4 linked regions of the Homo sapiens genome follow. The protein of the gene in region 1 purifies or fractionates together with the protein of each later gene. This does not show direct contact. Each region holds a gene or a part of one and is shown on either strand. Other genes may lie near its edges.

Region 1 (4,219 bases):
TTAAATTAGCAAGATGATTTTAACTTGAACAAAGTTATTTTACAAATACTTTTACTTTGAAAAGTTCAGAAAACACTTTTTGCTGTTTTCTTCAGAGCTTCAAAAATTTGATGCGGTTCATTACCTATAATTTGAAAAAACTGCCCTACATCATAGGATTTTTAATCTGAGGGCTCCCCATTTAAATAGATATGCCACTTTCCACTAGATCCTGATATTCAGGAGAACTGAAGTCATCTCTTTTTCATCTTTGTATTTCATAGCCTATCACACCGTCTGGAAGAAGGGTCTCCAAAAATATTTGTTGAACAACTGAATTTTACCAAGTAGTTCAACAAATCTTTTGTGCACCTACCATGTCCCATGACCCTCAGCCTTCTTATGTTATCTCAAATAATGCTAATGATACATACTCTGGGGAGATCAGCCAAGGTTTTGTCTTTATCTGAAAAAAAAAATTATATACGTTTGGGAATGGGGGATAGGAAAGGTATTCTAAGAGGTAAATGGAATACAGGCAGGTTTTGTAAACAAGACATACATAAAGGACAGAATACATTTATAGAATCTATATCTTGCAATAATAAATTACAAGTTTGGGATCTTTTAAAGAATATTCCATTCATATTTAAGATATGTTATATTTATAATGAGCAAGATTCTGCTGAAAAGTTAAACTGAGTTTGCACTTCCTGAACAAAGCTAATTTCTGGAACTCCCCTAGGCTGTGACATTTGTAGTAATGTGTTCAGAGAAATGAATACAGTTTAAGTAAATAGCCAAATAACTGTGACTCAATGATCAATCAAATCTAAGAATGCATTTTTAAAACTATTTTAACCATAAATGTAAAGAAGTTCACCCAGGGTACTAGTAGAACTCTAATAGCATAATGAAATAAAATATAAAAAGCCATCAATTCATTTATATTTTATTGACAACACCTAAATATTCTCCATAATTCTAGAATTATATTCTACCTAGTTAAAGCAAATAAAATGCATAGCAAGAGGGAGGAGAGCTTTTCACAGGTAGCAAATTTCACAAGAAATAAGCAAAGTGTAGAATTATAGTCTACCTAATTAAAGCAAATAAAATGCATAGCAAGAGGGAGGAGAGCTTTTCACAGGTAGCAAATTTCACCAGAAATAAGCAAAGTGCAGAAATGTTGGGGAAAATTGTAATCCTAAGGTATTAACTAAACGTAACTGAAAAAAAGATTAAATTCAGCAAGCCATTTTTTTAAAAAAGCATCATAAAATAAATCTCTGCTAAACAGATTTTTACCTATATATTTATAATTAACAATTCTGAACAGACTAAAAACTAAATAAAACTAGCACAGTAATTTAGCCTTTGATTTATATTTGAAACACTTTTCCTCCAGTATCCTATTGAGACCCCTCCAAACATTTTTAAATGCTTCCCCAACCCCCTCAGACGACTTGTTTAAATTAATTGTATTCACAAACCCCTATGTTCAAATTCACAGTCCCTTCTAATCACAAATTTTCCATCCTCCTCAGAGGTTTACTGAGCGTCAACTATACATAGTACATTTAGAAAATATAAAAACATTCTACATTCAAGATCCTTTCCTCTGAAGTCTTACAATCCAGCCCTAGGAAAAGGTCAAAATGTCCAAAGTGTGATACTCCAAGTATTCAAGCAGTAAAGATCTTCAACCATATTCAGTCCTTCTGTTCCCCTTCTTGGAATGCTTTTCCCCTGGCTGGATTCTTCTCATCTTTCAAATCTCAGAGATAGTTCATGACACCATTGAGCTATTTTCTACAGTAGCAACCCATTCCTTTCCTTCACTGCTTTTTTCCCAGTTTGTAATTACATATTTGATTGCTTGTTTGCTGGTTTATTATCCGTATCCAGTAAGAGAATACTCTACAAAAACATGAACTCCACTGCATTGTCAGTGATTACCAAAGCACTCAATAAACACCTGATAAATTAATGCACAGGTCTGGTGTTCCGAAGAAAGGTCTGAGCTAGACACACTGGGATATAGATGATAATTTACCATGAAAACTGATTTTATAAATTACCAGTGGGACGTATGTAGGGTTTGAAGAGAACCTAGAATGAACACCTGAAAAGGCCCTATATTTAGAGTTCTGGTAGGATAGGTAAAGGAGACTGTCTCTCTCCTCCAATCCACTTTATGCTTTTTAACTGTGATATAACTATGCCACTTAAATATGACTGTGTAACTATTTTACAAGTATTACTGTCATCACCCCTTACTTCCCCTATTGGACGCTTAAGTTTCTTGGAAACAGAACTGATGTCTGCTCATCCCATGATACGCTCAGCATATTGCAGGAAGTAAGGTTAGATAATCATGAACCTGGAAAAAGGGCTTCTTACTAGGTAGCTGTGCCTGGCATTTCCGAGATTTCCAACGTGCACCCGCCAACTCCGCCGCCCTAATCGCAGAGCTGCCCGAGCCGCCGACTCCCCGGCAGGGGGCGCCGCACCCTCCTCCGAAGGCCGCTGCCGGCTGCAGTCCCCGCCCCCAGCCCCGCGGTCACCTGCAGCGGGTGCACTCAGGCCTCCGCTCGGCCGGCTCCACCGGCAGCTCCCACAGCCCGTCCGCACTGTCGTCGTCCGCCTCTGCGCCCAGGGCAGCCGCCGCCGGCACTGCGCCGCCCTCCCGCCGCTCCTTGTCGTTCGGCGTCTGAGAGCTTGAGGCCCCAGAAGGCCGCGCAACGGGCTCCTGGAGTGTTCGTGCCTCTTTCTGCGACTCCATGGCGGACACTCCGGTCAGGCCGTGGCATTGAAGCCCGGCTGCCGCCGGGGGGCGCCACGCGCTGTAGAAACCGGCCCGCGCCGCGTAGCGCAATGCCCGCACGCCACGTACGGGGGGCGGGTCTCCGAAGCCCAGGCTGGAGGTCCCACCCTGCCGCTGGGAAGGAACGAGCCCATTGGTCCGTGCCCAGTGGGACCGTTCACCTAGAACTGGGTAGGCAAGTGTGGGCAGTGTTGGAGTGCTGGTGAGGTTAAGTAGCGTCATTGGGAGAGGTAAGGGAAACCTCCCCGAGAGGACCCCAGTACCAAGCCCGAATTTAACTCCTTTAAAAGTTAAAATAAAATGGAATTCTGCATTTTCCGCCTTGGGATGGCAGTTTAAGAATTTGCAGGATTTCCACGCGTGCATGCATCGCAGGTGCGGCAGCTGATGCACTTATTATTTAAAGGCCAACAAAGGAGAGGTTATATCCACTGGGAACTACTCACAGCTGGTCCGTTTCCTTATGTGAATTTCCTGCTCTTCTATGTCTTGTGCTAATAAGACATCAAGCATGCTATTTTACACTGGACACCAGATATTTGTTAAATTAGATTTTTAGATCGTCCCCGATCAGGAAGCAATAGGAGAGCTGGCCCGGGGTACCAATAGGTTTTATGTATGAGGAAACAAGCCCTAGAAAGGTAACGTTGCCCAGGTATTTAACAACTACTGGATACGGCGGTATATAGCACAGCAGCTGTTTTTTAAAAGCCAAAATGAAATCTATGTTAGAATGAAGGCAGAAATACTATTTACCCAAAATGGGTATCGAATTCCTTTTGTTTATTAATGCTTTGTGTTACTTCCAGCAATACACAACATTAAAACAGAATTAAGCTTGGTTTTGATCAATCATGTGAATTAAGCTTAGGAATCACAGTTGTCTTAACTCTATAGTTGTAATAGATTAAATGTGAGGCAAAGTAGACAACACAGTAATAGAGCAAATACTGTATTTCTTAAAATGTTTATTTCACATTAGATTTTTCAGTCATCTTAAAATCAAGTTTGTGAATAAAATACCGTGCTGTTTTCAACTATCCTACGTTCTTTCCCCCCGGAAACAGCACCTCTCTTTTCCTTTGGAGCGTCCTATGTGAGGGATAGAAAAAGGCTGAAACACCCACCTGGTGATGGACGTAGAGTGGGAGAAAGAACTAGCAATTATGCCATTTGGAATCGGAGGATAAACAAAATCCAGAAACTGTAGGAAAGGAGATGAATCAGAAAATTCATCTTGTCTGTAGATTTAGGTTGGGGAACCAATTCTTTAACTGCCAAAATTAAATTCTCATGTGACTTATCTTTAAACGAAAGGAAGCTGCTCATCTTTAATTTCAAGAGGTGAAATGTGCTCAAGTCCTCTAAGGTCCCTTGAGACTCCCAATTGTGTGGTGTGAGAAGACAGATGAT
Region 2 (3,500 bases), on another chromosome or scaffold:
AGGAGTAACTTTGACTTTTAAGTCTTATTTAAGAAATATATTTCATAAGGCTATAGCTACCATAGATAGTGATTCCTCTGATGGATCTAGGCAAAGTAAATTGAAAACCTTCTGGAAAGGATTCATCATTCTAGATGCCATTAAGAACATTCGTGATTCATGGGAGATCAAAGTATCAACATGAATAGGAGTTTGAAAGATGATTCCAGCCCTCACAGATGACTTTGAGGGATTTCAGACTTCAACGGAGGAAATAACTGCAGATATGGTGGAAACAGTAAGAGAACTAGAATTAGAAGGGGAGTCTGAAGATGTGACTCAATTCCTGCAATCTCATAAGAAAACTTTAACTAATGAGAAGTTGTTTCTTATGGACGGGAAAAGAACGTGGTTTCTTGAGATGGAATCTACTCCTGGTGAAGATGCTATGAACACTGTCAAAATGACAACAAAGGATTTAAAATATGACAGAAGCTTAATTGATAAAGCAGGGTTTGAGAGGACTGACTCCAATTTTGAAAGAAGTCATACTGTGGGTAAAATGCTATCAAATAGCATCATGTGCTATAGAGACATATTTTATGAAAGGGAGAGTCAACTAATGCAGCAAACTTCATTATTATCTTATGAAATTGCGATAGCCACCCCAACCTTCAGTAACTACTACCCTGATTGGTCAGCACCCATCAACATTGTGGCAAGACCCTCTACCAGCAAAAAGATTATGACTTGCTGAAAGCTGAGATGATCGTTAGCATTTTTTAGCAATAAATATTTTTAATTAAGGTATGTATGTTTTTTAGACAATTCTATTACACATTTTATAGACTACAGTATAGTATAAACACAGCTTTTTTTTTTTTTTTTTTTTTTTAAGAAATGGGGTCTCATGCTGTCATCCAGGCTGGAGTGCAGTGGTGCAATCATGACTCACTGCAGCCTCAAACTCCTGAGCTCAAGTGATCCAAGTAGCTGGGACTACAGGCCTGTCACATCACACCCGGCCAAAACGCATAACTTTTATATGCAATGGGAAACAAAAAAATGTGTGTGACTCACTCTATTGTGATATTCAGTTTACTGCAGTGATATGGAACTAAGCCCACAATATCCCTGCGGTATGGCTGTACAGTATAAGAATCACCTGAAGGGCTTATTAAAAACAGCTTGCTTGACCCCCTCCCTTAGAGATTCCGATTCAGTAGATCTGGGTTGGTCAAGAATTTGCATTTCTAACAAGCTCCCAGCTGAGGCTGAGGCTGCCATTCAACATACTACCAAGTAGCACTGGCATAGAGAGATCCCTGGAATAAAATTTACCTACTTGTGTGTGTGTGTATGAATGTGTGTGTGTGTGTGTGCGTGTGCATGTGCGTGTGTGTGTATACAGTCTTGCTCTGTTGCCTGGGCTGGAGTGCAGTGGCGTGATCTCGGCTCACCATAACCTCCGCCTCCCAGCTTTCAAGCGATTCTCATGCCTTAGCCTCCTGAGTAGCTGGGATTATGGGGTGCGCCACAACGCCTGGCTAGTTTTTGAATTTTCAGTAGAGACTGGATTTCACCATGTTGGCTAGGCTGGTCTTGAACTCCTGGCCTCAAGGGATCCACCTGCCTCAGCCTCCCAAAGTGCTGGGATTACAGGCATGAGCCACCATGCCCAGCCCTTACTTGTATATCACAATAGTGAGATGATTACTTTTCAACTTTCTTCTTTGTATTTTTTAGGTATTTAAATTTTTTTACAATGAATGTTCCATCTTTACCCAAACAATAAAATCTTTATTGTAAAGAAAGTTAGAAGCAAGAAACATTAACATTTTTTATAACTACAATTTGTATAAAAGCTTTCTCTGTGATCTTTAGTTTTTCTTTCTTCCTCTGAAAAGCTGAATCGTGTTTAATTAAACTCTCAAAAGTATCAAGTTTTTGTCTATAAAATGGCAAAACTGGCTATGATGAAATAAACTGATATTTGCTATTTCTAATAAAAGCATACAATATATTCTTTCTTACCAGATTCAAATAATATTTAACGCCAACATATTAGTCCAAGTCCTATCATCAGTCAGATTTATCAGAAAGGTATGAAAACCCATGCCTACTATAAGGACCAAAATAGCCTAATTCAATACTACTTTGAAAACATGGGGATGATGTTACTACGTAATTGTTTTAAGTACAATAACCACTGATCACATTTGAACTCTCAGGATACTTCAATATTTCTTTTGGACAACTATGACCTGTTTAGTAAATTACCCCCAAATACTTTAATATAGTTTTACAAATCGCCCCAATGCCAGAGACCCAGATCAAAAAGAAAATAATGGTATGGGTCAGATTCACAGAATAAGCACTAACTTTTATGCAAACTGAAAATAAAGATTTTATCTAAAAGTTATTTGGGGAAAATAAGCAGACTTTATCAAGAATTAGAGCTTGGTAAGAAGGTAACAGAAACCCATTGTGAGAAACAGGTTGACTCTGTGTAGCTTTCCATAGTAGAGTTTAGAGTTTCTTGTCATGATTACCTTATCAATGCAGTATAATAACTACTTACACAGCACTTACATTGTATTAGGTATTATAAGTAATCTACAGATGATTTAAAGTATATGGGAGGATGTGCATAGGTTATAGGCAAATACTACACCATTTTATGTAAGGGACTTGAACATTAATAGATTTTGGTATCCTCAGAGGTTCTGGAACTAATACGCCATGGATGCCAAGGGACAACTGTACTTAGAGGTAGAACGTCTCTGCTCTTCCTACATGTCCTTATTTTTAACAACTTCTGTTCTTACAAATAATCCTAAGTCAATCAATAAAACTTCAAATTCTATTAACAGCTTAAAAGCACCAAGAAATACTCTGATCATTCATTCAACTGCCAAAGAAAATGACAACCAAGTACTTTTCCTCTTTTAAACCAAAAAAAGTTTTTGGTTTAATACTAACAAAAGCTTTAATACTCATTTTAGATATTCCTCTAATACATCTATTTACAATATATCACAGAACTATATTCTGGTTATTAATAATCTCACTTCTTACCAGGGTCTGCTAATCCAGTGGTCTCTAACAGTATGTCATCAAATTTCCCCTTCTTTTGCATCAAATTCTCAATAGCTCTAAGGCCATTGTCCCTGGAGAATACCAAAACATAATTTACAGTTAATTACCTAAATATTTTGAAGTGATTATTATAAACACTTTAAAATGTATTCAACAACCCGAGACAAAAGTATCCTTAGGAATGTGAAAATTTAACTCACTTCTAACCTTCTAACAAAATGTCTGTCCCATATTTACCAGTGAGAAAACAATAGATGCATATATATAATAGGTAAAAAGAAATCATATACATAATAATACTTTATTAAAATTAAAAGCAGAGGAAACTTTATCTGACCAAGTATCTTTTTATAGCTTTATGAAATTTTTAAAAACCAACATACAAAATAATGATAAAATTTATTAACTATAGTAGTTTAATA
Region 3 (3,500 bases), on another chromosome or scaffold:
AAAATAAATAAAAATAAAAATAAAAATAAACCAAATGAATGAAGTTTCCCTCCAAGTTTGTCATCTTCATCTTAGGAAATAGCTTAAAGTTTAATAAAGTTTACACATGCCAATTTTGTGAATATCAAATTCAACACTTTGGAAACACAAGCTTCTAAATAAACTGTTTCACTGTGACAGTGTCCTTGAGAATACATGCCATCCAGAGGTAATTCTGCTTTATACTCAGATTCTTTCCATACTTCCAAAAAAGGATCAATATTAGACCTGTACAACAAATTACACTCTTTTACAGAAAACAATAAAATATCCAAGTCTCTCACCAAATTTTCAAAAAAGAGGAAAAGTGTAAGCTTCCAGATGAAAGTTTCTATAGCTTTCCCCAAATTTAGTACCACCATGAAAAACAAATTCTTCACTCATTCAAGGCATACGACTAGAAAACTAATTTCCATGGCATCAAATTAATTTCCTCCTTTGGAGATAAAACCATGAGATCTTTTCCAAAGCATTAAAATCGCCAAGAAAAAAAAAAAAAGAAAAAAAAGACCATTACCAGCATTTTAAAACTGAGTAAGAGAATGAAGTAAACAAAAAAGGGAAAGAAAAAGCTTCAAAAGTTCATTTTTCTCCTAATTTCTTGAACTCTCTATTCCAGAAGTACCTAATGTTTTTCTTAAAAGAGAGGCTTTCAATTTTTCCCTATGTCTAAAGGCTGCTTTAAGTAGCCTAAGACCAAGGACAGGAGAGTGAAAATGAAGAGGGTTTTGGCTCTCCAAGGTGGGGGTGGAATTGCAGCTACTGCTTAGGGATATTTTCCAGTGGTCATCTCTTCAAACTCCAGTGAGTCTCACAAACAGGGTGCACCAGCCAATCCAAGTATCCAGTATCTACAATGCAAACTGTAGATACTATCCAAATTGACAGTAGATAGCTCAGTAAATAGCTGAGCAAACTGCAATGATAGCTCAGTCTTGAACTCTGGAAATAAATTTCCAAAAGCCTTCCCCAGTGGCACTTCAAACTCAAAAACGCTTACAAAACTAATCACATTTTCCAAACCTGCTTCCACCACTACCCGACCTGTTGCTCCTCCTTCCTGTATTTCCTATACCTCGGAGATTAGCCTCACATTGAATCTACCTCCCAAGAGGCATGTTGCTTTTAAAATCCTTCACTAACTCCTTGCTCCCTACAGAAGAAAATCCAAACTATGTATCATGGCATTCAAGACCCTTTGTGGTAAGTTCTCTATCTCTTCAGTCATACCACTTTTTCTGTGCTACATAATACCAAGTTTTCTAGCCATTCTAAAAAATTCAAAGGTCCCTGGAATACAAAATCTTCCTTATACCTGGAAAGTTATCCCTACCCTACTCCATCTGTAAAAGCCTTATTCATTCTTTAAGACTCAGGTCAATGACTGTCTTCTCGGTCAATATTTTCCTGACTCTTTTTCAAGAAAAGTTGAGCAATCATTCCCTCTATTTTCCTATTATTATAGAACTCTGTGCTTTTAAAATTCTTGTATTAATATTAATATCTATTATGTTGCCTTTTTGTTTGTTTGCTTCTGTTTCCCCCCAATGACTGATCTCCTTAAAGGCAGAGTTTTTGCCTTATCCATTGCTTATATAGTCCTTAAAATGCTATGAAATGCATAGTAGGCAGTTTGTCAAATTAATTTAACTTATTATTGACCAGCTGTGTTTTGGTTTTCCTCTGTTCAGTCCACTTACATTTCTAAAAATTAAGAAAAAGTCTAGAGAAGATTAAAATGACACATCTTCTAACCTTTTACTCCTACTTCTGAAATCTATGTGGTTCACTAGTACTTCCATTTGCTACTAAATCAACTTAAGTCTTACCACTAAGACGATGCTACACACTATTCCTTTTCCTTACTCTTAACTACTCAAGGTGAGCCTTTTTCTACACATGCTTATAGCAGTTTATTGTCAGTACTTGTCAGCTACAAAATGGTAAAAAAATTTTAAACAAAAAATAAAACAAAACTTCTATAAGAGTGACTTTGACTATTTTGTTAACCAAATCTCCGGTTTTGTTTTTTTTTTTTTTTTTTTTTTTGAGACAGAGTCTCGCTCTGTCACCCAGGCTGGAGTGCAGTGGTGCGATCTCAGCTCACTGCAAGCTCCGCCTCCCGGGTTCACGCCATTCTCCTGCCTCAGCCTCCTGAGTAGCTGGGACTACAGGCGCCCACCACCAGGCTCAGCTAATTTTTTGTATTTTCAGTAGAGACGGGGTTTCACAGTGTTAGCCAGGATGGTCTCCATCTCCTGACCTCGTGATCCACCCACCTTGGCCTCCCAAAGTGCTGGGATTACAGGCGTGAGCCACCGCGCCCAGCCCAAATCTCCAGTTTCTAAACTGGTAAGCTCAAGTTGCTATGCCTCAAGGAATTTGAGAGAATATTTAATGTAAGATTCAGGACCCAATAGTAAGAATTGTACTCAGGACATCTGATCTTCATTGAAAAGGATTCTAATGCAACTTCAGTCCTCATAGCAAGGAAGTACTATTTCAGAAAGTCCCTAGATTCTCAGATGCACTGGCAAGCACCATACACTGAATAATTCACAGAAGATTTTAGTCACTTGCTCACTCATCCACTTGAAGTAAGAAAAATCAATCACTGCATGTTTATTGTTCTATAATAAAGCAAATGTTAGAAATAAAAGTTAGAAATGTCAAACACACTAAATTGTTACATAATAAACTAATCAAGACACAACTTTTATTCAGGACATGGATATTTCTGAAATGAAAACAAAAGAAGAGAATTGACTTAAAATGTTTATAAATACGAATATTATGACAGAACCAAAGCTATTTATGAGCATTATTTTTAAAAGCTTGTTTAAGTATTATGCACTTGTCTGTGTGACATTTTGTAAAGCGGAGAAAAATTAAGGAGAAAGGAATTGTAGAACACTAACAGGAAGAGGACAGATACTGAGGAATGGCTCATAGTATAAGTGAGATTATCAGAGACTTTCTACAATGGAATTTGAAATGCAGGGAGCACATTTGGTGTATGGTTGTAGAGGACTTACACTAAGGGCATTCTTCTGCTACCTCTGCCAGCAGATGAGTGGCTCCTGAGAATGCATACCAAATTAATTCCCCAGCTGTTCACATGCATATAAGCAGCTGCTGCTGTTACTGCCTAACACTTATGGCAGTCTGGCAGCACCTCTAATCTCTGCCATAGCAGACAAGCCACTCACCTAAGGCCTCTGCTGTACTTCCAAAGAAAGAATTTCTCCAGTAGAGACTGAGTGGAACTAGACTGCCAGCTGTGAGCCTCAGAGCTCCTGGCTGCCTGTTGCTGAGTCTATTAGCTGCTGAGCCTTTCTCACCAAAAAAAAAAAAAAAAAAAAAAAAATGAGCTTAATAAAATAACCCTGCACAGAAATTTTCTGAAATTAAGATAACATTCAATGGAAAACAGAATTTAATCTACAGAAATACACTTCACA
Region 4 (3,500 bases), about 35 Mb from region 1:
AGGGGACACCATTATGCAGTTTTAATCTTAAATTTAAAATTTCACATTTTTCTTTTTCTCATTGCAAATATTTTGCAATATTATGGAGCATATAGGCATTGTAAACTGAGCTTGGATCCCAACCATGATATGACATTGTATGTGTCCTCAGTTTGTGGTAGAGAAGATTTGTCGTGATCTACTTACCCAACGGCTCCCCTCTTTGAGCCCTATCCCTATCTTCTTGGGTCTAGGAGGAAGACAACCTATTGGCAAAGTAAGCTAATAGAATCTTTGTTCTTGGAACTTGGAATTGAGACCCTTGTGGGTCAGGGTCATTTGAGGAAAAGGAGGCATGTGGGGGCTGAGGCAGTCAGGTTTGGGCCACATACAAGGAGAAGCTGTAAGAAAGGACAAGAGGGATGGGGAAGGGAGAGAGTGGGAAGACAGGAAGAGGAGCAGGAGAAAGACAAAGAGAGACTCATACATGGTGCTTTGGTGCCTGATAGAATTCTACTTCCTGGCACTCCTGTGACCCTTTTTTTTTTTTAAAAAAAGAAACAACTTTATTAAATTTTACTCAAAATTAAAACCACAAAAGTGAAGATGAATGTGCAAACACGTAATAAATGCGGAAATGGTTAGGCAGGAGAAAAAAGATTAAGTTCACAAAAAGTTATTGAACTGTGTCTGTGGCTGCCAGGCAATCTTCATCATAGATCTCTAGTCTCTTCCTTACACAGTGGAGTGTGGCAAGCAAACTGCCCATGTGGCCAAGATTTGTGGTTCTTGTGTTGTACAGACATAGCCATTTGCCTCTACCTACCAGACAGGATTTAGGAAAACACTATAAACTCCCTTAAACTGCTCTTAGGCCAAACATGGCAGAAGAAACCTGGCACACTGATTTTGAGCCACAAGAGAAAGAGGCTGCACAATAGCCTTACACATCCAGTTAATACTGGGCACTTCACTCATACCATGTACATCCTGAACACAGAGGACTTCTGATTTGAAAGACTAACGGATATAACCCATTTGCAGGTAACAGGCTGTTCAGCAGCTGTGAGAGAAAACACTGGCAAAGATACGTGTCCAAGAAGGTGACAAAGCAGAAAAAAATAGTGAGGGAAGAACAAATCATCCTTGGTATCAGGGTACTATTATTTCCTCACACTAAGTCTCCTTTTTGCTAAGTCAGCTTGAATGGGTTTCTGCTACTTGCAGCACAAACTGCATTGACTATGACCATTCTGCTCATTCTAGACTAATGACTTTAAAACTACAGCTCAGCTAGGTCAAGGATCCATCGTGGAAGATGAAGTACAGTAGGTGGTGCAAGAGTTGCTAAGGAGAATTAGGACACTGTCCTAGACCCTCAGGAATTTACAAACCAGCTTGAAAGACAGCCCAGAAACAGCCAACTGTATCTAAGACAATGTGACTGAAATGTAATTATATTGTGAATGCAACAGAGAAAAGACAAATGTGTCAGTTCTAGGAATGCAATTCACTTATATGTTTGGGACTTCCTATAATATTAGGCCTGCATGCTTTGAACATATGATCCTTTATACTATAGTTATTTTACTTTCATTTCCAATCCTTTAATTTTTCCTCACATATACAGCCTCAGATGCAGAATTGTTCACCAAATCAGTTAAGTGGGCTGAGGTCATTAAGGCAGGTATATTAGATGCCATGGGAGACACAAGAGTACGTGCATTTGTATTTGGAAAAAAAAATATATATATATATATTATGCCTGCTGTTTTTAATGTAGCAGCTGACATTTGAAACCCAAGAACAGATTTCAAAAAGGAAAACCAAAGTGTCACCTTCTTCTTATCAGTTAAAAAGGGCTATACTATGTTTGTGGATGAAGTTACTTGATAAAATTTTTTATTACCTTTCCTTTTTGTGTGTGTGTGTGTGTGTGACGGAGTTTCGCTCTTGTTGCCCAGGCTGGAGCGCAATGGTGAGATCTCGGCTCACTGCAACCTCCACCCCCCAGGTTCAAGCGATTCTCCCACCTCAGCCTCGCAAGTAACTGGGATTACAGGCATGCACCACCACGCCTGGCTAATTTTTTGTATTTTTAGTAGAGACGGGGTTTCTCCATGTTGGACAGGCTGATCTTGAACTCCCAACCTCAGGTGATCTGGCTGCCTCGGCCTCCCAAAGTGCTGGGATTACAGGCGTGAGCCACCGCGCCCAGCCTATATTACCTTTCTTCAGCATTAATAAATAAAAATGTAATAGATAAGTGTAAGACTCAAGTTTAATCCAACTCCTTTTTCATCTTTCAGGTATACAGAATGTAAGCTTTGCTAGGATCATAAAGAATCAGAAATGTGGATGATTTTACCCCAGAAAACCATGTTGAATATTGACTATATTATTTTTAAAAAAGAGAAGAGCCTATAGCTGTCACCCCTAACAGATTGTCTTGTTGCCGTTCCTGCCAACTTCTGAGGGAAGAAATATTTCCATTCTGTTCCAATTTTCAACACAAATAAGGAAGTAATATGGCTGATTTCCGTTCTGGTGACTCAATATTAAGTTGGCTGAGGAAACTGATGTTTGCAGAAATAGTTCTGGGAAAATGCAAAGCAGGGAAACACATTGATGCCCAGGTGGTATTTTTTTTTTTTAAACTCCAATTATATTGGGATATTAGTGCTTCATTCTCTATAATCAAATGTGTTCTAGGCTGCATTTACAGCTCATCCACCCTTCTCTGCCTGCACTGTCACACTTGGAAAACGGACCAGTTCCTACAGCAGGCACACAAATTGACAAAGCAGCATTCTGAATCGGCAAAGGGGAGAAAAAGCAAATGAAGAGCAGGTTGTTAGCACTACCCTACCCTTTGCAAAGAATAAACACAAAGTTGTTCTGCCTAGACTCAAGCATTATTATAGGGATCTGTAACTAAAAAAGGTTAGTGACATTCAAACAGAAATCACTATCCTGAGGGCCATTTACTCAAAAGTTTCTAATTAAAATAGCCTTTATATTACTACCTTGGAGCTATCACATACCCCATAACTAGCATTTGGTCAGTCTGAGCTCAAACTTCAACATATCTTCTGGCACCTGGAGAAACATCGTCTGTATTTATCAGAGCTTTGCTTTAAACCCAGGATTATTTCAGTTATACCCATAACTTATATCCTTTTTGCCATAGGTATATTTGCTGAATAGCTACTGGATGCAAATGACAAAAACATCAATGAAACAGGCTTAGATTTATGATCTTCCCAGGCCATTTTTCCCCCTCTATAGTCTGAAACATCTCTATTTGAAACTCAGTCTAGTTAAAACAGAACTCCTCTTACCCTCAGATCTACTTGTTCAGCTTATGAACAGCTTAGATAATAGCCAGACAATTCTTCCAGTTTTGCAGTATCAAAATTGTAAGACAATCATGGCTCAGTGGTTAGGAGAATGGGCTCTAGAGTTAAGGTGCCTGATCCTACCCCTGGGTGAAGCCATAGGCTTGCAAGGCCTTAGTTTTC

Evidence for each region.
Region 2: the proteins of DTWD2 (region 1) and ZNG1F purify together in Homo sapiens (affinity purification with mass spectrometry; one large-scale study listed by BioGRID and IntAct). This does not show direct contact.
Region 3: the proteins of DTWD2 (region 1) and ZNG1A purify together in Homo sapiens (affinity purification with mass spectrometry; 3 studies listed by BioGRID and IntAct, with this or other methods). This does not show direct contact.
Region 4: the proteins of DTWD2 (region 1) and MFAP3 purify together in Homo sapiens (affinity purification with mass spectrometry; 3 studies listed by BioGRID and IntAct, with this or other methods). This does not show direct contact.

What each region holds. Positions count from the first base shown.
Region 1 is NC_000005.10:118,985,748-118,989,966, forward strand, and holds the start of DTWD2 (tRNA-uridine aminocarboxypropyltransferase 2), read right to left. Parts: upstream 2,801-4,219; 5' UTR 2,765-2,800; coding exon 2,547-2,764; intron 2,474-2,546; exon of another isoform or gene 2,403-2,473; coding exon of another isoform or gene 2,383-2,402; intron 1-2,382.
Region 2 is NC_000009.12:41,179,318-41,182,817, forward strand, and holds part of ZNG1F (zinc-regulated GTPase metalloprotein activator 1F), read right to left. Parts: intron 3,150-3,500; coding exon 3,058-3,149; intron 1-3,057. UniProt on the Homo sapiens protein: Zinc chaperone that directly transfers zinc cofactor to target metalloproteins, thereby activating them.
Region 3 is NC_000009.12:148,057-151,556, forward strand, and holds part of ZNG1A (zinc-regulated GTPase metalloprotein activator 1A), read right to left. Parts: intron 3,372-3,500; exon of another isoform or gene 3,249-3,371; intron 2,670-3,248; coding exon of another isoform or gene 2,651-2,669; exon of another isoform or gene 1-2,650. UniProt on the Homo sapiens protein: Zinc chaperone that directly transfers zinc cofactor to target metalloproteins, thereby activating them.
Region 4 is NC_000005.10:154,041,967-154,045,466, reverse strand, and holds part of MFAP3 (microfibril-associated glycoprotein 3 isoform 1 precursor), read right to left. Parts: intron 1-3,500. UniProt on the Homo sapiens protein: Component of the elastin-associated microfibrils.